4 linked regions of the Homo sapiens genome follow. The main gene of each other region encodes a partner of the protein of the gene in region 2 in a complex. Each region holds a gene or a part of one and is shown on either strand. Other genes may lie near its edges. A codon is read from its position in the direction of its gene.

Evidence for each region.
Region 1: the proteins of THOC2 (region 2) and THOC3 are in contact, whole or in part, in a cryo-EM structure (PDB 7ZNL), measured with the Homo sapiens proteins. Residues at the interface, in NP_001075019.1 of Homo sapiens: Tyr395, Arg396, Pro401, Lys402, Gly403, Ala404, Lys405, Gly406, Ser407, Pro446, Ile447, Ala450, Arg454, Cys500, Asn501, Ala502, Cys503, Met504, Glu506, Pro563, Arg566, Gln567, Lys570, His573, Tyr603, Leu604, Thr605; in NP_115737.1 of Homo sapiens: Asp193 (codon at 5,973), Met196 (codon at 5,964), Ile208 (codon at 5,928), Val217 (codon at 2,385), Gln218 (codon at 2,382), Asn221 (codon at 2,373), Ala222 (codon at 2,370), Pro224 (codon at 2,364), Ser225 (codon at 2,361), Ala244 (codon at 2,304), Asp245 (codon at 2,301), Ala246 (codon at 2,298), Leu247 (codon at 2,295), Ser249 (codon at 2,289), Trp251 (codon at 2,283), Asp252 (codon at 2,280), Asp254 (codon at 2,274), Glu255 (codon at 2,271), Leu256 (codon at 2,268), Val257 (codon at 2,265), Cys258 (codon at 2,262), Val259 (codon at 2,259), Cys261 (codon at 2,253), Ser263 (codon at 2,247), Leu265 (codon at 2,120), Asp266 (codon at 2,117), Pro268 (codon at 2,111).
Region 3: the proteins of THOC2 (region 2) and THOC1 are in contact, whole or in part, in a cryo-EM structure (PDB 7ZNL), measured with the Homo sapiens proteins. Residues at the interface, in NP_001075019.1 of Homo sapiens: Leu155, Phe156, Tyr157, Lys158, Gln160, Asn163, Leu164, Leu165, Arg166, Asn169, Glu170, Ala173, Lys174, Ile176, Ala177, Gly180, Gln181, Asn195, Lys197, Ser198, Leu199, Ile200, Gly201, Cys202, Phe203, Asn204, Leu205, Pro207, Asn208, Arg209; in NP_005122.2 of Homo sapiens: Asn134, Arg138, Asn141, Leu144, Arg145, Lys149, Thr153, Cys156, Gly157, Gln160, Leu161, Ala164, Arg165, Phe167, Gln242, Phe245, Arg246, Tyr297, Ala299, Lys300, Phe301, Arg319 (codon at 3,829), His320 (codon at 3,826), Leu323 (codon at 3,817), Gln324 (codon at 3,814), Ile327 (codon at 3,805), Tyr331 (codon at 3,793), Arg373 (codon at 2,073), Phe374 (codon at 2,070), Lys376 (codon at 2,064).
Region 4: THOC2 (region 2) and THOC6 share a complex: the UniProt entries of both Homo sapiens proteins name them as parts of the transcription/export (TREX) complex.

The regions. Positions count from the first base shown.
Region 1 is NC_000005.10:175,959,031-175,965,315, forward strand, and holds the end of THOC3 (THO complex subunit 3), read right to left. Parts: intron 6,126-6,285; coding exon 5,921-6,125; intron 2,405-5,920; coding exon 2,243-2,404; intron 2,122-2,242; coding exon 2,021-2,121; coding exon of another isoform or gene 1,929-2,020; exon of another isoform or gene 1,160-1,928; intron 1,103-1,159; coding exon 939-1,102; 3' UTR 501-938; downstream 1-500. UniProt on the Homo sapiens protein: Component of the THO subcomplex of the TREX complex which is thought to couple mRNA transcription, processing and nuclear export, and which specifically associates with spliced mRNA and not with unspliced pre-mRNA.
Region 2 is NC_000023.11:123,730,043-123,737,608, forward strand, and holds the start of THOC2 (THO complex subunit 2), read right to left. Parts: upstream 3,011-7,566; 5' UTR 2,981-3,010; coding exon 2,910-2,980; intron 1-2,909. UniProt on the Homo sapiens protein: Component of the THO subcomplex of the TREX complex which is thought to couple mRNA transcription, processing and nuclear export, and which specifically associates with spliced mRNA and not with unspliced pre-mRNA.
Region 3 is NC_000018.10:223,037-230,060, forward strand, and holds part of THOC1 (THO complex subunit 1), read right to left. Parts: intron 3,866-7,024; coding exon 3,765-3,865; intron 2,368-3,764; coding exon 2,301-2,367; intron 2,104-2,300; coding exon 2,053-2,103; intron 1,959-2,052; coding exon 1,888-1,958; intron 1,165-1,887; coding exon of another isoform or gene 1,144-1,164; coding exon 1,048-1,143; intron 470-1,047; coding exon 404-469; intron 1-403. UniProt on the Homo sapiens protein: Component of the THO subcomplex of the TREX complex which is thought to couple mRNA transcription, processing and nuclear export, and which specifically associates with spliced mRNA and not with unspliced pre-mRNA.
Region 4 is NC_000016.10:3,019,165-3,027,046, forward strand, and holds the start of THOC6 (THO complex subunit 6), read left to right. Parts: upstream 1-4,870; 5' UTR 4,871-5,162; coding exon 5,163-5,201; intron 5,202-6,543; coding exon 6,544-6,659; intron 6,660-6,759; coding exon 6,760-6,824; intron 6,825-6,898; coding exon 6,899-7,002; intron 7,003-7,086; coding exon 7,087-7,124; intron 7,125-7,200; coding exon 7,201-7,249; intron 7,250-7,351; coding exon 7,352-7,423; intron 7,424-7,514; coding exon 7,515-7,617; intron 7,618-7,702; coding exon 7,703-7,752; intron 7,753-7,846; coding exon 7,847-7,882. Other genes in the region: TNFRSF12A (tumor necrosis factor receptor superfamily member 12A precursor), read left to right, coding at 1,234-1,327, 2,051-2,155, 2,391-2,525, 2,607-2,662; HCFC1R1 (host cell factor C1 regulator 1), read right to left, coding at 3,699-3,834, 4,069-4,197, 4,310-4,366, 4,683-4,777. UniProt on the Homo sapiens protein: Component of the THO subcomplex of the TREX complex which is thought to couple mRNA transcription, processing and nuclear export, and which specifically associates with spliced mRNA and not with unspliced pre-mRNA.

The sequences.
Region 1 (6,285 bases), on a different chromosome or scaffold from region 2:
AACTTCTGGAAGGATATACATCAAAATTCTAATAGCAGTTACCTCTTGGTGCTAGGAATGTAATTTTTCTTTTTGCTTATCTTTTTCCAAAATTTTCTACCAACACTATTTCTATATGCCTCAATATTTGCTTTAACACCAAACAAAATTACAATATAATGAAAAACCACTGCTCTTAGGTAACAACCCTCCAAACATAAGCCCTTTTTTTTAGAGGGAAGAACTAATAAAGCTTTGCTTTCCATGAGGAACCAATAAGTGTTTTTCTTTTCAATAAGAAAGCTAAATGACTTACTCCCCTCTTCACTTTGCCACCAGGAAGCTCAGAGCCAAAATTTTAGTTTGGTCATTCAATTAGCTTTGTCCCTATATTTCAGAGGCTTCTTGGTTGGGACATTAAATGACAGAATTATAACATTTAAATTCTCTTTCTGAAATTAAAAAAAAAAAAAATACAAAACTGCAACTCAAGGACATAATAATTTTAAAAGTCTTAGAAGTTCCATAATAACAAAAGTCAGTTTATTAAATGCTCAATTCTCAAAATTATATATATATATTTTTAATTATTTAAAAAAACTTCCATGCCCTTCCATTCCCCTCCCTCCAAACTAGGTATTGTCCAAGTTGTATCAAATGCCACAAAGTCTACCATGCACCCAGAAGCAGAGAAGACAGGAGGTCCAGAGGACAAGGTATGGTGGGGTCACTACTCGCACTGCAGAGTCCACGCGAGTTAACTCATGCTGGGGGCAAAGAATGGAAAGAGCTAATACACAGACAAAGCAAAAGAATGAAATGCGCAGCCTGACCAGAGACGTTTACAATTTATACCAACTTACAAATATTTAGGGTGCCCACCAACTCCGAGAGAACAGACCAAACTAACCACATGAAGGAAGACCTCTGCCGGGGCCTCCTCTCCCTACAACCTCCTCTCAAGAATCATTAGGAAGCCCAAACAGCTTCACAGTTCCGGCTTCCCGGCTGCTGTCATATTTGCCGTCTTTGTCATCACAGGCAAATGCCAGCAGAGGCCTTTTGGGGTGCCACGCCACTGTGAAGGTCGGAGACTCACACTGTACCTCCCATAGTTTGTCCCCTACAGAAAACAATAGAGAGAAACCAATCAATACGTTCAAAACGAAGGACACATTCATTAAGTACTTACCAGTATTAACTGGTTTAATCCACCTACTAATCCCATGAGATAGATACAACTATTACCTCATTTTACAGAGAACCCCCAGGCACAGAGAGCCCACAAGCCAGTGGAGGACAGAGCCGGTTCTGAGCACAGGTGGGTTAACTCAAGAGCAGGTCACTGAGCAGGAAAGTGTCTCCGCGTCACAGGGACATGCAGTTACATGAAGGATCTGCATGGCTGGATGCTGGACAATGTTCACCACAACGTGACTAACAGGGGCATGCATTCTTTACATAGTGGAATTTCAAGTTCTTTACTTTCCTCTTCGAAGTTTTCTATACAGTTTTAATCTTTTTACGAAGAGTGTCAAAGATTTCCAAAAACAATAAAGCAACATTAAAAAACAAATCTGAGGAAATTCTTTTGCAAAATGAATACTCTCCTCCCATTTTTCTATTTCCAGCTTCTGTTGTTTTTAAAGCAAAAACTTTATAATTCCTCAAATTTTAAATAATATTTTTTCAAGTTCATATACAGGCAAAAGATAAAGAGAAATATATCACAACATTTAAAACAGGTGGTATTTAGAGAGTGGGACCCCAAGTGGTGCTTTTTTCTTCCTTCTACTCTGTAGTTTAAAGTTTAAATAAATCAAAATATTTTTCTAAATCACTTTCCTCAGACCTGCCTGTTTATTTCTTAACTCTTTGCTTCCTCACCACCTGGCAGTGACAGTCAAAACAGAAACATACTTGTCTAAAGGAGACAAATTCATTCATGATCATGCTGGTGAAGTAGTCACATGCAGAGATGAGATCACAAGAGAAGTCCTGACTGCCAAAGGTGAAAGACGGTAGATTCTCATGAAGTTACCTGTCTCCACTTCAGCAATGTCAATAAAATGATCTTCCGATGCTGACGCCAGCATTTTCCCATCATGGCTGAAACTGAGGGTTCTTACAGGCCAATCCAGCCTATGATACAGAGTGGACAGAAGAGACAAGAGAATTACCAAGTAAGAGGAGGGAACAATGTCACTCAAGATGAAATAAAATTAATGTACCCAACAAGGGAAGTGCTGATAGAGTCACTTACCTGGAAAAGCACCGAACACACACTAACTCATCCACATCCCAGAGGCTGACCAAAGCATCTGCACTTCCTGTGGCAAAGTACTTCCCCATGGGGTCAAACTTGATACAGATGCAGTTGGAAGGATGGGCGTTGATGGACTGCACAGGCTTCAGTTCTGGGTAGCTGAGAAAAAAGACAGCGATCAAACTGCAGAAGAGGACTGTGGTGCTGAAACAATAATAGGAGATGATGAAGAAGAAAAGCAAAGATAATAGACCACCACCAAGAACTGTCATTCAAGATAACATTCCTGAAATAAAAAAAGATTTTGAACTACATTATTTAAAAAGCACAACACATACCTGAGACTACAGAACCAAAGTTACCAACATCGAGACAGAGACTAGCAAAACTAGTGGACTTTAAAGAAAAAGAAAATTAGATTATTGGGCTTTCTGACAGCAACACTTAATGCCAAAAGAAAATGGAGTACCATATTTAAGAAAGATACACAAGCGAGAAAACGAGCCAAGGATTTTTACATCCAGCAAAACTGAATTTCAAATATAATGATACAAACAATAAGCACAATAACGTTTTATAAAATCTGTAAGTTTTAGAAGTACGTAAATAAGTTGTAATAAAAACTCCAGGAATAATGTTCCCATGAACGCTTCCCGAGGAATCTTAACTAGAGAATGAGCTTCAATTAAAAAAATGACTAGAGACTTATAAGGACTGGTGCTCAACACTGAATATACAGTTTCTTGCAAAAACTATACATGGTTTAAAGAGAGGGTATAATATGTAACATCTGCACATGCTTACAACATATAGTACTATTTTTTTAATGGGGGAAGAATGGAAAGAGTATATGCAAAAACCAAAAACATTTTTTGTTTCAAGTCATCACATTGGTGGTAGCAGCAGTAATATTGTTGTTCTGAGACATCTATATGTTTACCATGGGAGATAGGTAATAAGTAACCATCGGATATTCTAATTCTATGATCCCCTGTGCCCTTGAGAACCAGAATACTCAATTTGGGAGGAAAGAAATATATTTGTAATATAGAAGAGGTTTAGTAAAATCCCTGGAGTCCTCAATTTTGATTGCAAGTTATCAACATGAATTCATAAGGTATTTTATCTTTAAATATATATATATATACACACACACACACACACACACGTAATTCCTAGGCCAACCCAGCAGTAATGAACATTCCTAACTTCAGTATCATTTCTCAGTAAAAGAATGTAAGGCTCCTTTTTTTTTTTTTTTTTTGAGGTGGAATCTCACTCAGTCGTCCAGAATGCTGGAGTGCAGTGGTGCAATCTAAACTTACTACAACCTCCGCCTCCCGGGTTCAAGCGATTCTCCTGCCTCAGTCTGCCAAGCAGCTGGGAATATACACGTGCGTCACCACGCCCAGATAATTTTTGTATTTTGAGTAGAGACAGGGTTTCTCTATGATTGCCAGGTCTCAAGTGATCCACTCGCCTCGGCCTCCCAAAGTGCCAAAGTGCTGGGATTACAGGCGTGAGCCACCGCACCCAGCCAGAATGTTAAGGCTTCTTGGAGAATGTTCTGATTAAAGGTCTGGGGCAAGAAATGCACAAGATGAACTTGGAACATCTTATCAAACCAGAGAGCAAAAAAACAGAAGACGATGGGATTATGTCAAAAAAGGTCTCAGGAACCAACTTGAAGAGGTTCTTATTGGCCAAAGATGGGATAATTTGAGCTTCAACAGGCGTAACAATTACAAGAGATGGAAACACACCAACTATGTTTAAAAACATCAGCCCGTAATGATTCTTTAAAAAAAAAACACCTAACTGCTCATCTTTGGAGGTAGCAGGAAACAAAATCATTATCTGACAAACAGAATCAAAATTTTATCCTGCCTTCCCTACATGAACTACACTACTGGGTAACCAAATCGCAGATGAGAAGCAGCATCTCTTTACACAACAGTCCAACACATAAACAGCATATGGAATCAGCAAAAGCCAAACTGGGAGAATCTCCACAGGTTAACAGTCTGGTTTTTCAACAGCTACGTTTTCGGAAGTTTCTTTTGAGTAATTTAAGAGATACAAAAGACATATCAATTTTTTTTTTTTTTAATGAGCAAAACTAGGGTATCTAGGGGCTGCACATGTGGTAGATAAACTATGAAGAAACACTATAAAAGTCAGGATAGTGTTTGCTTTTGTGGAAGGAAGTTGTAATTAGGACAAATCACCTGGATGGACTTCTGGGATGGCTGGAAAGAACTACTTCTCAACTTGGGCGGGGTTGCACAAGAGTTAAGCCTATAAGAGTTCATTAAGCTATACATTTATTTTATGTGGTTTTCAATATCTGTGTTTTATAATAAAAAGATTTTTCTTAAAAAGTTATAGAATCCCCATTGCCTACAAAATAAAACCCAAGATACTAAGCATAAAATAAAGGCCTTTTATAATCTGGTCCCAAATTAGACTTCATCTTCCCATTATCATGCCCTCTCTTATTTCCCTTATCTGCCACCACTCCCCCAACAACCCTGACCTAACCACTCTCCAAGTAAGTCATGCTCACTCACACCTGCTTTGTCAGTTATGTGGTTCCCTTTTGCTTATTCTTAAAATTCTGCTCATCTTTCAAGATCAAGCTCACAAGCTCCCTCCTTCAACCCCCCATATAGTATGTCTGTTCTTTCCGTGGAATTTCACAGCAAACTCCTGGCCTCCCACTCACAGAACCTATCTCACTTGGTCTTGCATTGTTCACCTGGGATAGTGGAAGGCTAGAATTGAACAGACCTGAATTTCAGCTCCACAGTTTCATTCATTTACAGAACAAATATTTACTAAGATCCTACTACGTGGAGCAGGTACAGGACTAGACATTAGGGACTCAACACTAAACAAGGCAAACACCATCCCTACCATCAAGGAATTCACAGTCTAACAGGAGACACAGGCAAATAAACATGCAATTACAATATAGAAAGAAAAGTGCTTCCTACAGAAAGTATATAAAATACGCCTCTAACCTACCTCTAACCTTGGGGTAGCGGGGGAGCTTCCCTGAAGGCAAAGTGATATTTCAGTTGAAACTTTAAGAGTACGAATTAGCCAGAGGTCGGGCTAATCACCTGAGGTCGGGAGTTGGAGACCAGCCTGACCAACATGGAGAAACCCTAAACTACAAAAAATACAAAATTAGCCAGGTGTGGTGGCACATGCCTCTAATCCCAGCTACTTGGGAGGCTGAGGCAGGAGAATCGCTTAACCTCGGAGGCAGAGGTTGCGGTGAGCCAAGATCACACCATTGCACTGCAGCCTGGGCAACAAGAGCAAAACTCTGTCTCGAAAAACAAAAAAAAAGGGAGTACGAATTAGCCATAATTCAAGGTGCATCCAGTTCTAGCACACACTAGCTGACTACTGATGTAACCTCTCACCCTCAGATCCTCATCTGTCAAATGAGAAGCAAATCATCAACCCCTAGAATTTCTGTAAGGACTCAGTAAAATATAAAGTATATAAAATATACAGCTCAAATGTACTTAAGACAGGTTAGGATTCTCTCTTACTATTTGTGTTTTAAGCTCCTTCAGGATAGGCTCACATCTAATTCATCTCCATATCTGACACAGCACCCAGCACAAAGACATGACAGTCCCCTAAGCTAGACCCCCTCACCTGAGGATGTTGATACAACCATTGCCATTTGTCAGGAAGAACATATTATTGTCATTGTTCCAGGAGATTTCGTTGACCTCGAACTTGAACTGCTCTTCTGCTTTGGAACGGTGTGTCTTGGCATCAATAAAGGTCACCACATCATCCTTGTTGCCTACAGCAATGGTCTGCCCATCAGGACTCCAGCAGATATTAATGTTCTCCCCTGGGAACCCAGACATAATCAGCAAGATAATCTGTTTGCTCATAATCTTCCACAAGTTTATTGCACTATCCTAGAAAGAAGACCAGAGCTTTCTTCCGGGCTTACTCATTAAAGTCCTAGACAATGGAAGGGAGCTACCACTTATGATTCAACAATAAGT
Region 2 (7,566 bases):
ATCATAAAACTGACTATACTGATTTGGATCTACTATAATTCAATCCACATTCCACAAGTCATGCAATAACTACATACACGTAAGTTCTAATAACAGGTTTTTTTGCTGTTGTTTTTGGTTTGTTTTTGTTTGGGTTTTTGTTTTTTTTTTTTTTTTAAAGAGTTTCGCTCTTGTTACCCATGCTGGAGTGCAACAGCGCGATCTCCGCTCACCGCAACTTCCGCCTCCCAGATTCAAGCGATTCTCCCGCCTCAGCCTCCTGAGTAGCTGGGATTACAGGCATGTGCCACCACGCTCGGCAAATTTTGTACTTTTAGTAGAGATGGGGTTTCTCCATGTTGGTCAGGCTTGTCTGGAACTCCTGACCTCAGGTGATCCACCCGCCTCGGCCTCCCAATTTGCTGGGATTACAGGCGTGAGCCACCACGCTCGGCTTCTAATAACAGTTTTTAAGCAGCTCTTCAAACATAAGAACTATGACAGATAGCATGTATTATGTAAATATACATAATGTGAACCTAAAATTCCATTTTATCTAAGTATTTCGATCTCCTACATCACTTTTTCTCAAACCATTACCAGTCAGAAGCCAAGCAGAATTTCACCTTATAGCCCTAATACCACTCATGCTAAGGTGGCAGCAATAATAGTAAAACTGTTGGGAGGCCGAGGTGGGCGGATCACCAGGTCAGGAGATGGAGACCATCCTGGATAACACGGTGAAACTCCGTGTCTAGTAAAAATACAAAAAATTAGCCGGGCGTGGTAGCACGCGCCTGTAGTCCCAGCTACTCAGGAGGCTGAGACAGGAGAATCGCTTGAACGTGGGAGGCGGAGGTTACGGTGAGCCGAGATCGCGCCACTGCACTCCAGCCTGGGCGACAGAGCGAGACTCCGTCTCAAGGGGGAAAAAAAAAAGTAAAACTGTCAAAAAACAGTAGCTGAAAGGAGGAAGCTGAGCAATCTACAAACATAACAGCCCCTAAATAAATGAGCTGGCTTTGAAAGTAAACAAAACAATGAACTGCTTTTATCAGTTTTGGGGGATTACCCTAATATCGATGAAGATGATGGTCTGGCTGGGTAACTTCCCATCTTGCCTTCCCCAAACTTGATGGCTATTTGTCAACTAGCTATCAAACTTGACAGCTATTTGTTAACTAGCACATACGAGGATTTGTAAAATGTTCATTATAGTTAAAAACGAAGATTTATCAAATAGCCTTCTCTGACAATTAATAAACCAATAAGCATTCTAAGCATAGGCTGGGGGGGCGGGGCATGTGTTAAACCAAAAGAAATATGAGACATAGTCCCTATATTTCAAAGGCCTCCCAATTCATTACAGTGCAAGAATAAACACACATGAATAAGTCAGAGACCAATTAATTGCTAACCTGAGTGGTACAGACTTTAAGTGCATGAGCTGTCCTGAGAAGTTTAAATATCTAAAGGTTGGAATAATATTACTTTTAATAGCTATCACTTGAGCACTTACTATAAGCCAAGTGCTTTACAGGCATTATTTAGTCTTCACAACAATCCTTTGAGTAGAGTACTTATTATTCCCAATTTACTCAAGGGGAAACAGTCCAAGTGGTTAAGGAACTTACCCAAGGTCACTCAGCTACTTAAGTGGCTAAGACAGCCGCTTATTTAGGGAATTCTAGAGCTCACACTGTTAAGACTTCATACAGCAGTGCGGGGGGTGCGGGGGAGGAAGCCACATAGGCTGGCACTATTACAAGCGCGGGATCCGGCAACGCGTTCCTCGTGTTTCGTTCCAAGTAACGAAGTTACAAAGATTTGAATCTTTAGCATGAGCCACGGTAAACTGGCTACTAGAAATGGAGAGGGGTGGGCAAGGACGACAAAAATGGCTAACGAGGGTTAATTTCATCCAGGGTTGAGCTTTAGCATCTAAAAGCGACCCAGAGAAGGAAATGAGATGTTATTAATATTTGTTCTTATATCTGAGGTTTGCTTTGCTGCTTAAACGACTCCTTCCAGGGGAAGGGGAGGAGGGAGCGCTCTAACGTGGGGGCGAGAAGACTAGGGGTATGGCAAATTACTGTTTTCGGTGTTACGGGGGAAAGTTTCACGACTAAAGGAAACGCGTTATCCTAGGTACTGGAGAAGCTTGGAGAGCTGCCAGAATTAGTTGCAGTCCCAGGATAAAATGGGGTTTAGGGAACATTTAATGACGAAAGTTGAATCCAACCCGAAATAGCTCTAAGGTGAAAAGACGGAGCAAAGAAATGTCGGTGGTTCTTCAGGGAAAGCGGCAATCCCTGCCACACTTCCCCACGGCGCTACGCGAGGCCGGGACAGTCGAGAGACCGCTCCCCGGGAGGGCGAGAGGTGCCAAACCGGGTTCTTCGCGGCGCCCCGGGCTTCGCGGCAGCGGGCGAAGAGGAGGGGAGGGGAATCCGGGACGGTTCGCCCTCCTTGGACTTCAGGCAGAGGAGGCGCCAAGCTCCAAACTGCGGAGTCCAACGGGTGCAGAGTGAAGAAATGGCACAGAGAGAGATGGAAAGTCCGAATTGCCCCGGCTCAGCCCCATAAAGATAAAGGAGCCAAGTGAGATCAAGCGAAGAGGGGGACACAAAAAGAGACCAAGAGGGAGCGCGGAGACCTGCAGGGGCGGAATAAGAGTTCTACTAAGAGGCTAAAGGAAGCCGAGCTACCGCAGGCAGTAGCGATTTCTGGGAGGCCAGGGAAGGAAGGAGGTCCGCGGCGGTAAACAGCACCTCTCCCCGAGTTCGAAACTCCTAGACGACCATCCACGCCCGCCGCCCGGGTGGGGGAGGGGGTACATCTTTCCCCCTCAACCTCCCACTACAGGTGAGAGTGCAGCTGACGCCCTGGCCCGGCCCGGCAGTGCGCCTGCCTCCGGCCCGAACACTCACAATTCGCCTCTCCCTGATTTCTCCCAGTTCTTTATCCACTCTGCGGGAACCACCACAGCCGCGGCCGCCATCTTCCTCTCACTAGTAGCAGAAGCCCGGATGTGTAGCACGCGAGCGAAGGGTCAAAGGGGAGCACCGCCCACGAGGAATGCCGGGAGCTGAGAGTTCGTTTTTCGATTTCCCGCCCCACTTTCCTCTCCACCCAGCGGAAACCCGAGGCAAGGCAGCCAACGACGTGGAGACTCGCGGGCCCCTTTGCGAGGTTACTACACGGGTTGCGCCCTCCGAAGTCTTCGGCCTTACTTCCCATTAGAACAGAGAAATGCCATCCACAGGCCAACAAGTAGACTTCATCTTCTTCCGTAATATCTACCCCTAACCACTAATACAAACACGCATTTTTCAAGCACCTAATATGTGCTAGACACTGGGAATAGAGAAATAATAGTCTTTGGGAAAGCCATAAATATAAGCAAATAAATTACATTACGCCCTGCTGACTGCTGAGATAAAAGAAAATAATCGGGTCCCTCTCCTTCTCCCTCTCCCTCTCCCGTCTCCCTCTCCCGTCTCCCTCTCCCCACGGTCTCCCTCTCCCTCTCTTTCCACAGTCTCCCTCTGATGCCGAGCCAAAGCTGGACTGTACTGCCATCTCGGCTCACTGCAACCTCCCTGCCTGATTCTCCTGCCTCAGCCTGCCGAGTGCCTGCGATTGCAGGTGCGCGCCGCCACGCCTGACTGTTTTTCGTATTTTTTTGGTGGAGACGGGGTTTCGCTGTGTTGGCCGGGCTGGTCTCCAGCTCCTAACCGCGAGTGATCCGCCAGCCTCGGCCTCCCGAGGTGCCGGGATTGCAGACGGAGTCTCGTTCACTCAGTGCTCAATGGTGCCCAGGCTGGGGTGCAGTGGCGTGATCTCGGCTCGCTGCAACCTCCACCTCCCAGCCGCCTGCCTTGGCCTCCCAAAGTGCCGAGATTGCAGCCTTTGCCCGGCCGCCACCCCGTCTGGGAAGTGAGGAGCCTCTCTGCCTGGCCGCCCATCGTCTGGGATGTGAGGAGCCCCTCTGCCTGGCTGCCCAGTCTGGAAAGTGAGGAGCGTCTCTGCCCGGCCGCCATCCTGTCTAGGAAGTGAGGAGCGTCTCTGCCCGGCTGCCCATCGTCTGGGATGAAGTGAGGAGCGTCTCTGCCTGGCCGCCCATCGTCTGAGATGTGGGGAGTGCCTCTGCCCCGCCGCCCCGTCTGGGATGTGAGGAGCGCCTCTGCCCGGCCGCGACCCCGTCTGGGAGGTGAAGAGCGTCTCTGCCCGGCCGCCCCGTCTGAGAAGTGAGGAGACCCTCCGCCCGGCAGCCGCCCCGTCTGAGAGGTGAAGAGCGTCTCCGCCCGGCCGGCCGCCCCGTCCGGGAGGGAGGTGGGGGGGTCGGCCCCCCGCCCGGCCGGCCGCCCCGTCCGGGAGGTGACGGGCGCCTCTGCCCGGCCGCCGCTACTGGGAAGTGAGGAGCCCCTCTGCCCGGCCACCACCCGGTCTGGGAGGTGTACCCAACAGCTCATTGAGAACGGGCCATGATGACAATGGCGGTTTTGTGGAATAGAAAAGGGGGAAAGGTGGGGAAAAGATTGAGAAATCGGATGGTTGCTGTGTCTGTGTAGAAAGAGGTAGACATGGGAGACTTTTCATTTTGTTCTGTACTAAGAAAAATTCTTCTGCCTTGGGATCCTGTTGATCTATGACCTTACCCCCAACCCTGCGCTCTCTGAAACATGTGCTGTGTCCACTCAGGGTTAAATGGATTAAGGGCGGTGCAAGATGGGCTTTGTTAAACAGATGCTTGAAGGCGGCAGGCTCGTTAAGAGTCATTACCACTCCCTAGTCTCAAGTACCCAGGGACACAAACACTGCAGAAGGCCGCAGGGTCCTCTGCCTAGGAAAACCAGAGATCTTTGTTCACTTGTTTATCTGCTGACCTTCCCTCCACTATTGTCCTATGACCCTGCCAAATCCCCCTCTGCGAGAAACACCCAAGAATGATCAATAAAAAAAAAAAAAAAAGTCAACAGAAAAAAAAAAAAAAAAAAGGAAGGAAAACTTTCCAGAAGAGAGATGTGTCTAGCACAAGAGAAGAGGAATAGTCCTGAGCCTGGAGGATTATTTTGCAGGAATCTCACAGGGCAGTTCCTAATGCAGGAGAATTAAAATAGGCTTTTCCTGGTGTATTTCTTGCAAACATTTTGGGCCAAGTGGCCTTCCCACACCCTCACATGAGCCTGCTTCCCTCCCACTCCTCTGTCATCAGGGCATTTCTGTTTAGGAACAGCAGGTCTAATATTGACTTAAATAAAGCAGACTTGACAGAAAAAAAAAAAAAAAGAAAGAAAGAAAATGTGGCACATATACACCATGGAATACTATGCAGCCATAAAAAATGATGAGTTCATGTCCTCTGTAGGGACATGGATGAAGCTGGAAACCATCATTCTCAGCAAACTATCACAAGGACAAAAAACCAAACACCTCATGTTCTCATTCATAGGTGGGAATTGAACAATGAGAACACTTGGACACAGGAAGGGGAACATCACACACCGGGGTCTGTTGTGGGGTGGGGGGCGATAGCATTAGGATATATACCTAATGTAAATGACGAGTTAATGGGTGCAACACACCAACATGGCCCATGTATACATATGTAACAAACCTGCACGTTGTGCACGTGTACCCTATAACTTAAAGTATAATAAAAAAATTAAAAAAAAAAAAAACACACGTTTGGCAGAAAATACAGACAATCCAAATGAAGAAATCCTACCCCACATATGAACTTTAGAGCTAGTATCTTCTAAATATGGCAAGTTTTGTCAAATGAACCAGGTTCATTTGCATTGAAAAACTATTTAAGTTATGTGCTGTATTCAGAACTGGTTCTGGGAAAATGCTCCATTGTTTATGATTGTTTTTCACCAGCTGTATCTAGTCTTCTAGTGTCCTGTCTCACTTTGAAATTCTAAAGCCACCCACTAGAAAATATCCACCTATTAACTTCAGTGATTTCTGCTTGTAAAAACCTTCTGCCGTTTTGAGGAGGATCAAATATAGAAGTGCCCTCTAATCTTTTCATGTTTCCTTATTATGGACAATTTAAAATGTATACAAAGCAAACAGAATGATACAGTGAATCTTCATGTACCATCATCCTTCCTGGAAAACTTTGAAGTCATTATTACAAGACGGCTTCTGTGATACAAGAAGCACTATCTTGCTACTTATGTATACTTCTCTGTGTAGTCTACAGCAAGGACTTTCAACCTGGGTCAGATAATTTTTTGTGGGGATAGGGGGGATGGGGGCCAGGGGGCAGGGGTCCTCTGCATTGTAGAATGTTTAGCAACATCTCTGGCCTTGACTCACTAGATGTCAGTAGCAGCCCCCATACACACACACACACACACACACACACACACACCCACACCAGTTATTACAACCGTTTCCAGACATTGCTAAATGTCTCCTGGAGGGCAAAACAGTCCCCTTTTGAGAACCACTGAGCTACAGTATTCTCCTGTACTGTGGCTTACCTTGCCACGTATCACAGTGATTTCTTCTTCCAAACATTGAACTGTGCAGTATGCATAGTAATCAGTATGTCACACTTGTGGTATGACCTGAGTGCAATGATGCCCTTTGAGGCCTGGTTTTCCCTTCTTCCAGAAACTGCAGAACTATTTTTACATGGTATGATGACTCCTTTAGGAATTACTCAGAGCTAATTGGCTTTTTGATCTATAAGATTGCAAAGCTATTAAATCTTCTGCATCCTTGTTGTTGGCTTGCCTGCTCTTTGCTATCAGCATCTGGTATTATCTCAGCAGCTGGGGGGATTTTTCCCTGGTGATCTCACAAGCTCATGGATACCAATGTGCTATTCAGGGACTGAGGTCTGTGGTGGAGGCCAGGGATTGGGTAGTTTCAATGTTGACAGTCTGATGCATGGAATGATAGGTTGATTTTAGGTTACTGTAAGGTCAAGCAATCTTATAACTTACCATCTCAGTGAAGACAAATAATGGGACCAAAAAGGAAGCACATAAAAGCAAAACAAGACAAAATAACAAAATAATTAAAGAATGAATGCAAAGGGTTTTTTGAGATTTAAAATGAAGAAAAGTTCTTTAGAATAAGCTACTTGATAACTTCTGCATTTTATGCTAAGGCTGTTTATGCCAAACCAATCTACTTGTCTCCTTCCTGTCTACAGTGCTCCTTTGGTAAAAACAAGATCTTTTCTTTTTCTTTTTCTTTTTCTTTTTCTTTTTCTTTTTCTTTTTCTTTTTCTTTTTCTTTTTCCTCCCACTTCAGCCTCCCAAACAGCTGGGACTAAAGGCACTCACCACCACACCCGGCTAATTTTTGTATTTTTTGTAGAGGCAGCCCAGACTGGTCTCAAACTCCTGAGCTAAAACGATCTGCCCACCTCGGGCTCCCAAAGTGCTGGGATTACAGGCGTGAGTCACTGTGCCCCACTGAAATCTAGCTATTTTTAAGGGACATCCCTAAAACACAGGGACACAAGAAGTTTGAAAGTGAAATGATGGGGCAAATACACCAGCCAAATACTAATATCAACAAAAATTAAGCTGTTGTAACTTAATTTCTTTTGTCTTTTAA
Region 3 (7,024 bases), on a different chromosome or scaffold from region 2:
TAATTAACCCATTAATTCTTACTTTACCTATGTCTAGACTGCTATTAAACTTGCCCATTTTGCAAGTTCAACGAACTTTTGTGACTATTAAAACCCAAGTTCCCTGGTTCTCAAAGCTGGCAATCATTAGTACTGCTGCCCTAGAACCGTATCAGTTCATAGGCTTACTCTTCTGTTTGTAGTTTTGATTCCTTTTGTGAATCTTTATTTTTTTGTGATTTCTAAAATTATTTTATCAGCACTTTGAGGAGTTTTATGGTGGGAAGTTACACGCTGCTGTGCCAAAAGTCAACCACAATAAACTTTTAAATTTCATTTGAGCTCTGATCATAGCTGAGAAAAGGCTCCATTCTACTCAACACTTGACAAAAGCAACACTTCATTTGAAAAATGTTCAACTTGCCTTGTCTCTGATTTACAGGCTTCCATATTATCAGGGCAAAGATTCCAAAGCCTTGTTAACTCCTCACTACAAAATAGACACAGAAATAAATACATTTTTTATGGACACCATCCTCATGTGCCTTGAAACTGAACAGAAAAACAATACAATGTAAACAGTGGATTTGGGGATGTTGACAGTATGAGTTTTACTTTTCTCAATAATTTTTGGTATTTAAAATACCTAAAATTATTCTCTATATGAGCATATAATCATTAATCATGACTAATGATAATGATATAATCTTTAGTTTTTTCTAAAAATATTCCAGCACAATATAAAGCAATGAATAGTTAACTGGAAGGTAAGAGAACTCAAGGATTATGGTACCTTGCAACAACTGGAATCTAAACAATTCTACTGTCTGAAACGGAAAAAATGGCACAGCCTAGAGACACAGATTTTGGAAGCTGGAGACAAAATGAAGGTTTATCTGGTGCATGAACCCACACAATGGGCAGTATAGACAGTGCGGTTTGCTTTGGCTATCTATGTGTGTACCAAACACAATCTCATACTATATTTTGGATGGAGAGTTCTTAAAGTAACATCTTCAAAATATAAAAATAACTAAGAACATCCCACATGAAGACAAATTCACCTACTTTCCCATCAGAATTTTTTTGGTGGGTCCTTTCCCTAGGAAGTCCTCGGGTGCTGTTCTCTTCCGAATTATTCTCGTAGGTTTGGTATCTGATGTTCTGTCGTGAACAAAACATACACTATTTTTTGAATTACAAATGGATAACAGAAATAGAAGAATGTTTAACGTAAAAGAAAATTTAGTTATTGTTTTCCTCTTAAAAAAGATGAAAACTGGCTGGGCATGGTGGCTCATGCCTGTAATCCCAGCACTTTGGGAGGCTGAGGTAGGTGGATCACCTGAGGTCAGGAGTTTGAGACCAGCCTGGCCAACATGGTGAAAGCCTGTCTCTACTAAAAATACAAAAATTAGCCAGGCATGGTGGTAGGCGCCTGTAATCCCAGCAACTCAGGAGGCTGAGGCATGAGAATCGCTTGAACCCAAGAGGCGGAGGCTGCGGTGAGCCAAGATCATGCCACTGCACTCCAGCCTGGGTGACAGAGTGAGACTCCCTCTCAAAAAAAAAAAAAAAATGAAAACTTCATATTATGATAGAACAATTATCAGATATAAGATAAAAATGCCACATTATATGGCAAATTACACGGAGTAGATATACAGTATTCTTCTCAATAATAAGATGTTTGTTCCAGGAATTTAATGACAAGAAATTTATGAGGTTTAAAAAATACAGAGGTAAATCAAAGTGGTTGTACTCTTACAAAGTTCAACTTACATTTTTTATGTGAAATATATACATGTATTTTTACATGCTATAATCATATCGGAGCACATTTTCAAAAGCCTTTCTCGTCGTTCTTGTGATGAGTATGTATTTACCTTTCTTTCAGTATGTATTTACCTTTCTTTCACAAAACTTGGGCAACCTTCATTTTTCCACGAGTTCCAGTTTTCTTCAGTGTTTAATATATGCTGGGAAAAACAAAGCGATTACATTTTGGTTAGTGGAATCCTCTGAAGTTCTATTTCGTGCTAAGAAGAGGATGTAAGCATAAAAAACACATACCTCTACCATCTTTGAAAATCTTTCTCCATCGGGGGGGTTTTCAGATAGTAGCTGTGATTAGAAAGAATATACTAAGCTTTCAACAACTTTCTGCATCATAGGAGTGGTTTGTAGGCAGAGAACCAAGGAGTGTTTGTGGTCTTGTACCTGAGCTTAACTTTATCCTTATTTTCCTATTTGGGGCTGAAACAAAGAAAATCCTAAATTTCCATTTTTTCAATCATGGGTTTGTTGCGTGTTGAACTTACTTGATAAACTGATTTTGTAGTATCTTCAATCCAAAGTGATTGCTCATCAGTTAAAACATAGTTTGAACTAGGGAACAAAGCAATGAAAGCATGCTTGAGTTACAGCAATGCATATGCAACTTTAAGGTTTAAAAAACACAAGGCATGTAACATGTAACTATACTGTGGATAGTGTCAAAAATTACCAAGACAAGAATAATCACAAATGAGAGGATTATAAGAGAAAATTCTTGCACTTCTTCCTCAAGAGGGTTGGTACTGAAGACATAAAAGCATATGCAGGGAATAAAACATTCAATTAATCAATCAGATTCACTATGAACAGAGCAATATATGTTTCCTAAAATAAGCTGAGTGTGAAACGAAAACTTCTGATTTGATATTAAGATATGTGTATACATGATGCACATTCAGTATGGCATGCTACATTAAGATTCATTCAAAATACAACGAATAAAACACCCAAACCCTAGAAAAGGCAACAGGCAAACCCAAATTGTTAATAGCTGCCACTAACTGAGCTCTCATAATGCACTAGGTGATTTAAAGACATCCAATAAATATTGATGGCTAGGATCTGAACACTTTACATACATTATTCATTGAATTCTCGGAACAAGTACATGTACATATTAAACAGAGACTACCGTGTCTCACTGATTTGCCCAAGGCCATAAAGATTTAATTCAAACCCACGTCTCACTTCAAAGTCCCTCATCTTCCTACTATGCTATACCAAACCTCCAAAATAGATAGAAGGATAAGAAATAACATTTTTTGAGTGTTTACCATGTGCTACTACCTTAAAATTACAAGTCTGAAAGAGCTGCACTGCAGCCAGCAAATGACGAGCCTGGGATTCAAACCCAGCAGGTAGTGAAGTCATTATACAACTAATACGGCATTGCTCAGTGTCCTTAACACAAATACCGTTAAGTAACAGTGGGCTCCACCTTCAGTTATGGACAGGATAGGAGGAAATGGATGGAAGTATTTAGATAGACAGTAGAGAGCCTAATGAGGTTTTGTGAAACCCCAAATAAATGAACTCCTTTTTGCTTAAAAATTTTCTTTGCATCTTTTAGCTTGAATGTCCTGCAGAGCTCCACACCTTGTGAGATATGTATTACTGGCTTAGTCTGCAAATCAGCTTTGGAGGAGGTCTGAGGGAGGTGAGAAGGGAATGACGGAATTTTGGAGCAGAGACCTCCACCTGCTAATAAAGACGACAACTCCTGGCAAGCCCTGGAGTTGGGCAGGAAAAACTCACACTGACAGATATATTTAACATCTTTTCCTTAAATATCCTAATATCGAAAAGCCTTCAATGTATCAGCTGCAATACATGTGTTTTAGGGATACAGCCTTAACATGAAATGGACACATACATAAGAAAAATCGTAAGCAAGTCCTTTTTTTTCTTGGCTACTGTTTACAAATTGTTTACTACCCATATTATCTTACCTTTTGAATTTGACCTGCCCCTTGAGATATTGGAATAAAATGAGATACTGCAACAGGATGTGTCGACGAAAGTTACTGTCACTCAGTTGTAAATCCATCAGCTACTCAAGAAACAAGCAAACACATACGAAAACAACACATTAAAATCAAGTTTTTCCTAAAGGTACAAAATGTGCTAATATAGAAATGGAAGATTCCAATTCAATTTAAAAGCCATTTGTTGAGAGTTCACTGCATGTGAGGCATTACCGCACAAGCCCAAAGACAGCCCAGTCAAGGTTTCACTTAGATTTCTTGACTGTTTTATGCCATGACACATTCTTGCTGGTGGATAACAATGATCTATCTATGGTCCAGACATGAGGATAAAATAAAGCAGAAATAGAAAAAAGTAAGCTGGGCATGGTGGCACAAAGCCTATTATAGTCCCAGCTACTCAGGAAGCTGAGAAGGAGGATCACTTGAGCTCAGGAGTTCGAGATCAGTCTGAGCAACATAGCAAGACTCTAAATTTAAAAAAAAAATTTTTTTTTAAAGTAAAACTGAGGCTACTACTTTCTCACATATGAAGAAATAATGGCTAAAGAAGATACGGATAACAGCACAATATCAACGGGGACCACTCATTTTTGTAGCCCTATAAAGTGCCTGCAACAGAGGTATTACTTGACAATAAACAAGAAATTAGAGGTGAAGATCATCTCTGATTAGATGGGCTTTTTTTTTTAGCTTTTAGTGAAAATTGCATCATACTTGTATTATCACAGAATCTGGATTAGAAAGGACTTGAAGGTCACTCATGAGGAAGTTCTTCAACGACCCTGCCATCCAGCTGTAAGAATAACCTGCGGCGATGAAGGAAGGTCATTCTGATTATGTGCATGGAACACTGAAGGAAGGCTGAAGTCTGTATCCACAAACTCATGCTAGTTCTGCCTTCAAAAACTACAGTAACAAAGGAAAGCCACGTTCTTCTAAATGAATCGCCAGTAAGGCAGCTGGAAGCGTCGAAGATTGGTTTTGGTTCAATGTCCCAAGTGCTGGTGGCTCTGCTTTACGTGGTTGGTACCATTTACTAATGCTACCTAACACGCACAAGCCTCCCTATTCACTAGCAACCCCTTCCACACTGTGGCTCCAGGTCTTAAAAAAAAAAATTAATGATCAGCCTTCCAGTCAGGTTTCCCTCACGTTTAAGGATTGAATATATTTGATTGTTATTTATATTAACTCTCCTATCCCAAATTGGAAATGTGAATGGCCGGCCATCAGCCTTCCCTTCCTCCAGCCCCTGGGCAACTTGACTGTCTCCACTCAGGCTGTTAGTTCCTTGCCCTTAACTCCACGGACAGGCCCATCTCTGCTCCAGCTACCCACTACTGTGGCCACAGCTAGACCTGGGGTCACTCACAGCTGCCCCAGATCTGAAGTCTTCAACTCACAATCCTATCTCACCACAACCTCTATCCTTCCCAGGTCTCTCGCTCAGTTGCTTCCAATATACCTAATATTTGGATCTTACCGAGACTTTAAGGCCCTTGACCCGTCTATTCTCTGCCTGTTAGTCCCATCCCATTTTATTATAATCCTATTTTAGTCTAGATAAGGGGTCAGCAAACTTTTTCCTGAAGTGTCAAATAGTAAGTATTTTTATTAATAGGTTATGTGGGCTAAGAGACATATTATGGATATTATGTAGGTATTTAAACATCTAAAATGTAAGGGGGAAAAAAAAACCAAAATCACCAAAAACAACCAACACAGGTGGTGGGCCAGATTTGGCCTATAGGCTATAGTCTGCCAACTCCTGGTCTAGACTTCATGGTTAATCTCTTCGGCCATTTTCTTGCCAACTTCAACACACTTGTCCCATATTTCTTCTGTCATGTCTAGTGAGCAAACAGCAACCTTGAATAAACCAACTGTTAGTCACCTTCTCTATACCAACCCTCAGGATTCCAATCTCAGCTGAAAGTGAGGTGCCTGAGTGAATACCCCAAATTACACAGCTATGCAGAAGGCACCACTGGTATGTTGTCACCACCTTAAACATCTGTTTTTAATCAGCAATCTTTCTTTATTCTTCAAGGCCATTCTCTCTCCTACTCTTCACAGTAATGATTTTCAACCCTTTCCACTTAGCAAAAATACTACTTTACCACCCCTTCTCACTTTCAGTAGATAACTACTTTTGCCTTCAATGAGAAGAAAAATTAAATTGGAAAGCATTTCATTTCTTGGCCCCCAAAATGACAAATCAGCTGCACCTACACCTTTGTTTACTTCATTTCCTTCTGTCACAACTCCTTCACGGCTAAAGGTATTCCATCTGGATTACCTTCCATCTGGAATCCCAATATCCCTAACAATTGAGTTCCATCAACTAACTGCCCTGGTTTCTGTATCTACAACCTATTCTTTCCAAGCTCCTTTCCATAAGCATTAAATAAGCTCCCTCAAAAATCTCCCACATTCTCACCTAACCCTTTAACAGCAAAGCTTCTTAAAATAATTGACTATAGGCACTGTTGCCAATCAGCTCCTCAACCTGCTATCATCTGACCGCCTCATCCACTAATCCATTGAAAGTGTTTTTGTCGGCTGGGTGTGGTGGTTCACGCCTGTAATCCCAGCACTTTGGGAGGCTGAGGCGGGCGGATCACAAGATCAGGAGTTCGAGACCAGCCTGGCCAACATGGTGAAACCCCGTCTCTATTTAAAAAAAAAAAAAATTAGCGGGGCGTGGTGGTGCATGCCCTGTAATTCCAGCTACTCTGGAGGCTGAGGCAGGAGAATAGCTTAAACCTGGGAGGCGGAGGTTGCAATGAGTCCAGACCATGCCACTGCACTCCAGCCTGGGCAGCAGAGCAACAATCGGTCTTGGGGCGGGGGAAGAAAGTGTTTTGTCAAGATCACCAATGACTTATTTGTTGTTAAATCCTGTGAACACTCTTTACTGTCCTCATCCTACTTGATATGCTTGGCTTCCATGAGTGCATGCTTTTCTAGTTTTTCTCTAATCTCACAGGTTACTCTTCAATCTTCTCCTCTTCTCCCTTCATTCTCCCTTAAACATGGGTTTTCTTCGGGATTTCAGTATTTTCTTCTCTTCTGAATCTACACTCTCCCCTTTAGCTCATTTCATACACTCTACAGTTTGAATTACCATTTATAAACTGGTAACTCCTACAACTATACTCTCAACCTAGATCTTGTTCCTAGTCTCCAGCTTTGTACACTAGACAACCTATCACACATCT
Region 4 (7,882 bases), on a different chromosome or scaffold from region 2:
GGATTACAGGCGTGAGCCACCGCGCCCGGCCTGTTTTGTTTTTTGAGATGGAGGCCCTCTCTGTCGCCCAGTCTGGAGTGCAATGGCGCTATCTCGACTGACTGCAACCTCCGTCTCCCAGGTTCCAGAAATTCTCCTGCCTCAGTCTCCCGAGTAGCTGAGATTACAGGCGCCCACTACCACGCCCGGCTAACTTCTTTCTTTTTTTTATTTTTAGTAAAGACGGGGGTTCACCAAGTTGGCCAGGCTGGTCTCGAGCTCCTGACCTCAGGTTTAATTGTTATACCCCCCGGGCCCTTAACAAAGCTGTAGTGGCCAGGCTAACCTGGGCAACATAGTAAGACCCTGGTCTCTACAAAAAATACAAAAATTAGCCGGACGTGGTGGGGCAGGGCCTGTGGTCCCAGCTACTTGGGAGGCTGAGGTGGGAGGCTCACCTGAGCCCAGAGAGCCGTGATCGTACCACTGCACTCCAGGCTGAGCAAGAGTGAGACGCAATCTCAAGGGGAGGTGGGGGGAAGGAAGCTGCAGTGATCTCTGCATGGATTGGTCGTGTGTCTGATTTCTTTTTATTGTTTGTTTGTTTGTTTATTTATTTATTTATTTATTTATTTATTTATTTGAGACGGACTCTCACTCTGTCGCCCAGGCTGGAGTGTAGTGGCGCGATCTCGGCTCACTGCAACTTCTGCCTCCCGGGTTCAAGAGATTCTCCTGCCTCAGCCTCCTGAGTAGCTCGGATTGCAGGCGCGCGCCACCACGCCCGGCTAATTTTTGTATTTCGAGTAGAGACGGCGTTTCACCACGTTGGTCAGGCTGCTCTCGAACTCCTGACCTCGTAATCCGCCTGCCTCAGACTCCCAAACTGATGGGATTAAAGGCGTGAGCCACCGCGTCCGGCCGTTCGTGTCTGATTTCTATATGTGCTGCCGAAGCGAGCACTCGTGTCTAATTTTTGATTTCCCCACACCACGCACGCTGGACTAGATCACCGGCTGGGCAAGGAAGGGGGTCTGCGTCCCTGCGGGGTCCTGGCAGCTCCCGCGCCAGGACTTTGTTGAATGAATGACTGAACTGAGCGGGCGCCGCGGGGCGGGGCGTCCCGAAGCGGACCTCAAGGCGGGCGGAGGCGAGAGCTCCGCCCCGGAAGGCGGGGGCGGGGGCGGGGCGGCGGCCGTGGGTCCCTGCCGGCCGGCGGCGGGCGCAGACAGCGGCGGGCGCAGGACGTGCACTATGGCTCGGGGCTCGCTGCGCCGGTTGCTGCGGCTCCTCGTGCTGGGGCTCTGGCTGGCGTTGCTGCGCTCCGTGGCCGGGGAGCAAGCGCCAGGTACGCGGGACTCCGGGGTCGGGGAACCCCGGGCCGGGGCTCGGGAGCCGGACTGGGTGTCTGGAGAACAGCGCCGAACTGGGGGAACAGGCGGATGTGGGGATCTGGGGTCAGGTGGCCTTCAAACAGCTCGCTCCCGGCTGTGGGAAGTTCCATCACTCTCCAAGCTTCATTCACAATCCGGGCCTCAGTTTCTCCCACCGTCCAATTGGGGTTGGGGGGGGTCTTCAGTTCCACAAGTCCGAAGTACTTCGAATGGAGAGAGAAAGTGAGTGAGGGCGGGATGTTTAGTCTAGGAAGGGGCACGCCCCCAGCCTGGTCCGTACAGGGTCTAACTAGCCCCAGTGATCGACGAGTTGGGGAGGCCGTCGAGAGGCACTAGGGTCTGTGCCCTCTATACCATGTGGGGTGCCCCCTTCCATCCGGTGACTTCAGTGCCCAGCTATGCGGGGGGAGGGACTGGGGTCGGGCCCGGTGCCCAGGAGTGAGTCACCCGCCGGCGGCAGGGGGGTTGTGGGGACCTGACCCCCCCCACCCCCAGCGTCCCGCGCTACGCCCTCCCTCCCGGAGCTGCCGTGTCCCGGTCGGGCCGTGCGGTCACCTGTGAGGAATGCGCGGGGAGGGCGCCGGTGACTCACGTTATTCGAGCCGGCCGACCCTGACCTCAGACCCCAGAATAGCCGAGTCCCGCCCCCAGCCTCTGACCCGAGGCCCCCTCCCCAGGCACCGCCCCCTGCTCCCGCGGCAGCTCCTGGAGCGCGGACCTGGACAAGTGCATGGACTGCGCGTCTTGCAGGGCGCGACCGCACAGCGACTTCTGCCTGGGCTGTGAGTGGGGGGCAGGGCCAGTGGCCAGCGGACCCCAGACTGGGAGGGAGGGTGGCTGGTGCGCAGAGCGGGGCCGAGAGCTTTGCATCTGGGAAATCATTCGGGAGGAGGTGGGAGCTGGGAGGGGGCTCCGGTCAGGGAGGAGGCCACGTTTGGGAGAAGGCAGAAGGCTCAGTCTTAGGGGGCGGGGCTGGCCTGGAGAGGGGCGAGGTCTGACTCCGAGTCCCGCCCCCAGGCGCTGCAGCACCTCCTGCCCCCTTCCGGCTGCTTTGGCCCATCCTTGGGGGCGCTCTGAGCCTGACCTTCGTGCTGGGGCTGCTTTCTGGCTTTTTGGTCTGGAGACGATGCCGCAGGAGAGAGAAGTTCACCAGTAAGTGTGCCCTGGCCTGCCCAGCCCTGTCAGCACTCGACCTTTTCTCTGCTGCTGACGACCCCACCTCTTATCTTGCAGCCCCCATAGAGGAGACCGGCGGAGAGGGCTGCCCAGCTGTGGCGCTGATCCAGTGACAATGTGCCCCCTGCCAGCCGGGGCTCGCCCACTCATCATTCATTCATCCATTCTAGAGCCAGTCTCTGCCTCCCAGACGCGGCGGGAGCCAAGCTCCTCCAACCACAAGGGGGGTGGGGGGCGGTGAATCACCTCTGAGGCCTGGGCCCAGGGTTCAGGGGAACCTTCCAAGGTGTCTGGTTGCCCTGCCTCTGGCTCCAGAACAGAAAGGGAGCCTCACGCTGGCTCACACAAAACAGCTGACACTGACTAAGGAACTGCAGCATTTGCACAGGGGAGGGGGGTGCCCTCCTTCCTAGAGGCCCTGGGGGCCAGGCTGACTTGGGGGGCAGACTTGACACTAGGCCCCACTCACTCAGATGTCCTGAAATTCCACCACGGGGGTCACCCTGGGGGGTTAGGGACCTATTTTTAACACTAGGGGGCTGGCCCACTAGGAGGGCTGGCCCTAAGATACAGACCCCCCCAACTCCCCAAAGCGGGGAGGAGATATTTATTTTGGGGAGAGTTTGGAGGGGAGGGAGAATTTATTAATAAAAGAATCTTTAACTTTAAATGGTTTGGAGAGGCAGTGATCCCCGACTGACTCCCCTGAGCTGGAGGGAGGGAGTGAGTCAGCCAGCCGCGGGGGCGGGGGTGAGGCTCTGACTCACACATTCTCAATGCCTGGAACTCAGCCGGCAAGGACCTGGCTGGCCCTAACAGTTTTCCAGGGAAGATCTTGAGGAGAAACCCCAGCATCCCGCGCCTCTGCCCTCTCCACCATCCCCAAAAGCCCCAGGTTCCAGACTGAAGCCTTCCTTTGCTCAGCAATCTTTATTCAGTTCTTCTTGGGGGTGGGATGCCTCCCTTCCCATGCTCCCACCCCTCCCATCCCAGAACTCCGTTGGGCTCAGTGTCCTCTGTTGAGGGAAGGTCTTGGTGCCCAGATGCCTACTCTGCAGGAGAGGGAGGAACCTTGTCCCTTTGCGGGAGTCGCTGGTCTCTTCTGTTGTGGGGAAGAAGGAAGGTGGGAGGGGCACTGTCCACCAGCACTCAGAGCTCCATTATGTCCCCAGCTGGGGTTGCAGGGTAGGGGGGACTGGGGGTGTCCCCCAGCCTCAGCAGACGGAGGGCCTCAGGGATGAGGCTGCCAGGATAGCGCCAGAGAAGCAGCTCAGAGCAAGGGCTCCTAGAAGAGGAAATGACTGTCAGGGCATGGAGCTGAGGCTGGCCTAGCTGAGCACCTCCCACCAGGTCCAGGTCCCCAGGGGCTCCTGGGTTCCCAGCACTTTCCAAAGAGCCAAGATGGGAAACAACCCAGAGGTCAGCTAGAGCTAAAAATGGCACGATGAGGCAGGGCCTGAGGTCAGCTGTGAGGACCGCCTGTGATTCTGCAGAAGGCCTGGCCAGTGGAGGAACCTACCTGAGTGGGGGCAGGGCTGGGGAGAAGGTCATGGGGGGGCTGCAGTAGGGGTGGTCATTGTGCAGGCTGAGTTGAGAGAAGTGGGTGGCCATGTTCTCCTCAGACAGAAACTGCTTGCGCAGAGGCTCCCTGGGGAGAGATGGCAGAGAGGCAGGCTGGGATACTGACACAGGAGGCAGCCTGTTGGGGACCAGAGGTGACAGAGATCTTGTTGGGAGTCCCTCCCTGCCCCCAAACTCACTGCTCCTCCTCCAGGCGCCGCTTGGTGCTCATGGGCACAGCTCCTCGGAGAGGGGAGCTGGGAAAAAAAGAGAGCCTGGTGCACCCCACCCTCTTGGCCCCTTCCCAAGGATCTGCCCGCCTAAGCCTGCAGCATCAGCCAGGAGCCCCAAGCCCATTCCTGTCTCAGCTGGTGCCGGTCCCCGCTCTCCTGGACCATCCAGCAGGGTACCTCGGAAGTCTCGACCCTCAGCCGCAGCCCCAGTCCCATCTCAGCTCACGCCTAAGCCCCGCCGATTCGCCCCACCCCGTATTCATCCTGCAGACCAGTCCTGAGCACCCAGCCAAAGCTCCTGCGGCCCTTGGTCAGGCCCACCCTGGTCCCCTACACGCACCTGGCGTCCAGGCCCCAAGTCACCCCCAAGGCGGCCCGCGGGAGGCGCTGGGCCCCTCCCTGGGGGCCTCGCTGCAAGGGCTGCTGCAGGATCATTGGGTTTTGGGGTCCTGCGGGTGGGATCTGGGCGACAGGGGAGGAGTCTCTGAGGGCGTGGCCAAGAGAGGATGGGCGTGGCTTTAGGCGGGCACAGCCGCGAGGTTCTGCGCGGGCGCGGAAGACGGGCGGCGCGTGGCGGAAGGCAGGCTTGCTCCTCGGGGTGGGGGAGGGTATCCGGCTTAAGGGGGCTGCGGTGGACACCACTTCTTAATGTCGGGGGTCTTCGCGGCGCTCACCTCGGCTCCTAGGGTTCGGGACGGTACGCACCAGCCACCTTCGCGCCGAAGGCGGTAGGGCGCCACGGAGAGGAACCGCTCTAGGCACGTAAGGCCTCGTGAGGTTGCGTCGCGCGCGGAGCACTCTGGGACTTGTAGTTCTGGAGATGGAGCGAGCTGTGCCGCTCGCGGTGCCTCTGGGTCAGGTGAGACGGACGTGGTGCGCGTTGCCTTCTGGGGTTTGTAGTTCACGCATGGCTGGGACGGGGCGGGCAGGGAATCGTGCCCTGAGCCCTGTTTTGCCTGGGCTATTTGTGGGACTCAGACTCTGACCAGGGGGGCGGGATAGTAACCCAGAAGTGCTTCAGGGGCTTAACGCAAGTCAGAGAGTAGGAATTATAAATCAGTACGTTTTTCTATGTTGGGGTAGTAGAGGTACTTTTTTTTTTTTTTTAATTTTCTAGTTCTTGCAAAGCACTTTTTTTTTTTTTTTGAGACAGAGTCTCACTCTGTCACCTAGGCTAGAGTGCAGTGGCGCGATCTCAGCTCACTGCAACCTCCGCCTCCCAGGTTCAAGCGATTCTCCTGCCTCAGCCCTCCAAGTAGCTGGGACTATAGGCGTGTGCCACCATGCCCAGCTAATTTTCGTGTTTTTAGTAGAGACAGGGTTTCACCATGTTGACCAGGCTGGTCTCGAACTCCTGACCTCAGGTAATCTGCCTGCCTTGGCTTCTCAAAGTGCTAGGATTACAGGTGTGAGCCACCACGCCCGGCCAAATTTTTTTTTTTTTTTTTTTTTTGAGATGGAATTTCACTCTTGTTGCCCAAGCTGGAGTGCAGTGGCTCCATCTGGGTTCACCGCAACCTCCGCCTCCCAGATTCAAGCAATTCTCCTGCCTCAGCCTCCTGAGTAGCTGAGATTACAGGCATGCGCCACCACTCCCAGCTAATTTTGCATTTTTAGCAGAGACAGGGTTTCTCCATGTTGGTCAGGCTGGTCTTGAACTCCTGACCTCAGGTGGTCCACCTGCCTTGGCCTGCCAAAGTGCTGGGATTACAGGCGTGAGCCACTGCGCCCGGCCCCACATTTTTAAATTTTTTTTGAGACAGAGTCTCACTATGTTGCCCAGGCTGCTCTCAAACTCCTGGCCTCCCAGAGCGCTGGATTACAGGCATGAACCACCACACCCGGCTTAAGCACTGAGTGACAGCCCCATGTAAAGCTCTTGTCTATACACTAGCTCATCTAATTGTGATGGAATCTTCTGTGAGCTCCATTTGTCAGTTGAGGAAGCTGGCAGGAGAGGCCTGGGTGCTTGCTCAGAGGTCCCTGAGGCATCACCTCAACTCTCCCCTTCTTCAGTGTCTTCTTGGAGCCACCCATGGGACTGCATGGGCAGGTGCTGGCTTGGGGCGGGGCCGCCTCAAAAGAAGGCTGAGAAGTCAGGACAGTGGGAGGCCTGGCAGGTTTTGGGGGAAGCAGGGAGGAATCTGTGGATGGGAGGTTTCATACGTCCCAGGCAGGCCTCATCCAGTCTTTCCCTGCAGACAGAGGTGTTCCAGGCCTTGCAGCGGCTCCATATGACCATCTTCTCCCAGAGCGTCTCACCATGTGGGAAGTTTCTGGCGGCTGGCAACAATTACGGGCAGATTGCCATCTTCAGGTACCCTCTGCCGCTGTCCACCCATTAGCCCTGGCACTTGGCCCTCATGGGACGGATGCCCCCGTTTCTGACTCCTGGGTCCCCTCCGCTGTCCCTGCAGCTTGTCCTCTGCTTTGAGCTCAGAAGCCAAAGAGGAAAGTAAGAAGCCGGTGGTGACTTTCCAAGGTGGGTATACCTGTGGAGTCTGGCTTCAGGACTTTGGGTGGGATTGGCTCACTCAGTTCTGCATTTCTCTTTAGCCCATGATGGGCCCGTCTATAGCATGGTTTCCACCGATCGACATCTGCTTAGTGCTGGGGATGGGGAGGTGAAGGCCTGGCTTTGGGCGGAGATGCTCAAGAAGGTAAGGAGTCGAGCTTGGGAAAGGGCTGGGGTGCCTGGACCCAGAGAGAGCCTTTGAGGTCACCTGGTATTTTCTCTTTTGAAGGGCTGTAAGGAGCTGTGGCGTCGTCAGCCTCCATACAGGTGAGCAGGGCCACGTGGATAGAGGGTGCATCAGGGTGAAGCCACTTCCTCACTGACCTTGCCTTTCCTTCCCCAGGACCAGCCTGGAAGTGCCTGAGATCAACGCTTTGCTGCTGGTCCCCAAGGTCTGAGCCCCATGTGACTGTTCTTGGTCCAAACTTTGATCCTTCACCCTCTGCCTATCCTGATTTGACATTGACTTTCTGCCTCATCCTGCTCCTCCACAGGAGAATTCCCTCATCCTGGCTGGGGGAGACTGTCAGTTGCACACTATGGACCTTGAAACTGGGACTTTCACGGTGAGCAGGGTCCTGGAGCCCTAGAGCAGGTCTAGGTCAGGGAGAGGCACTCTTCCTAGGTCTCCTCCTGACATCGCCCCTCTACATGCAGAGGGTCCTCCGGGGCCACACAGACTACATCCACTGCCTGGCACTGCGGGAAAGGAGCCCAGAGGTGCTGTCAGGTGGCGAGGATGGAGCTGTTCGACTTTGGGGTAAGCAGGTGGCTGGTTGGAGGGCAAGATGGCAGTGAAGGAGGCTGAGGCAAGTGGGGCACCACTCACAGTTCTTTCCCCGCAGACCTGCGCACAGCCAAGGAGGTCCAGACGATCGAGGTCTATAAGCACGAGGTGAGGGTGTGACCGTGGCCATTGTCCTCTTCTCCCCCAACTCCTTGAATTCTCCAGGTCTTCACCTCTTTCCCTCCTCCCCTCCCCATCCCAGGAGTGCTCGAGGCCCCACAATGGGCGCTGGATTGGA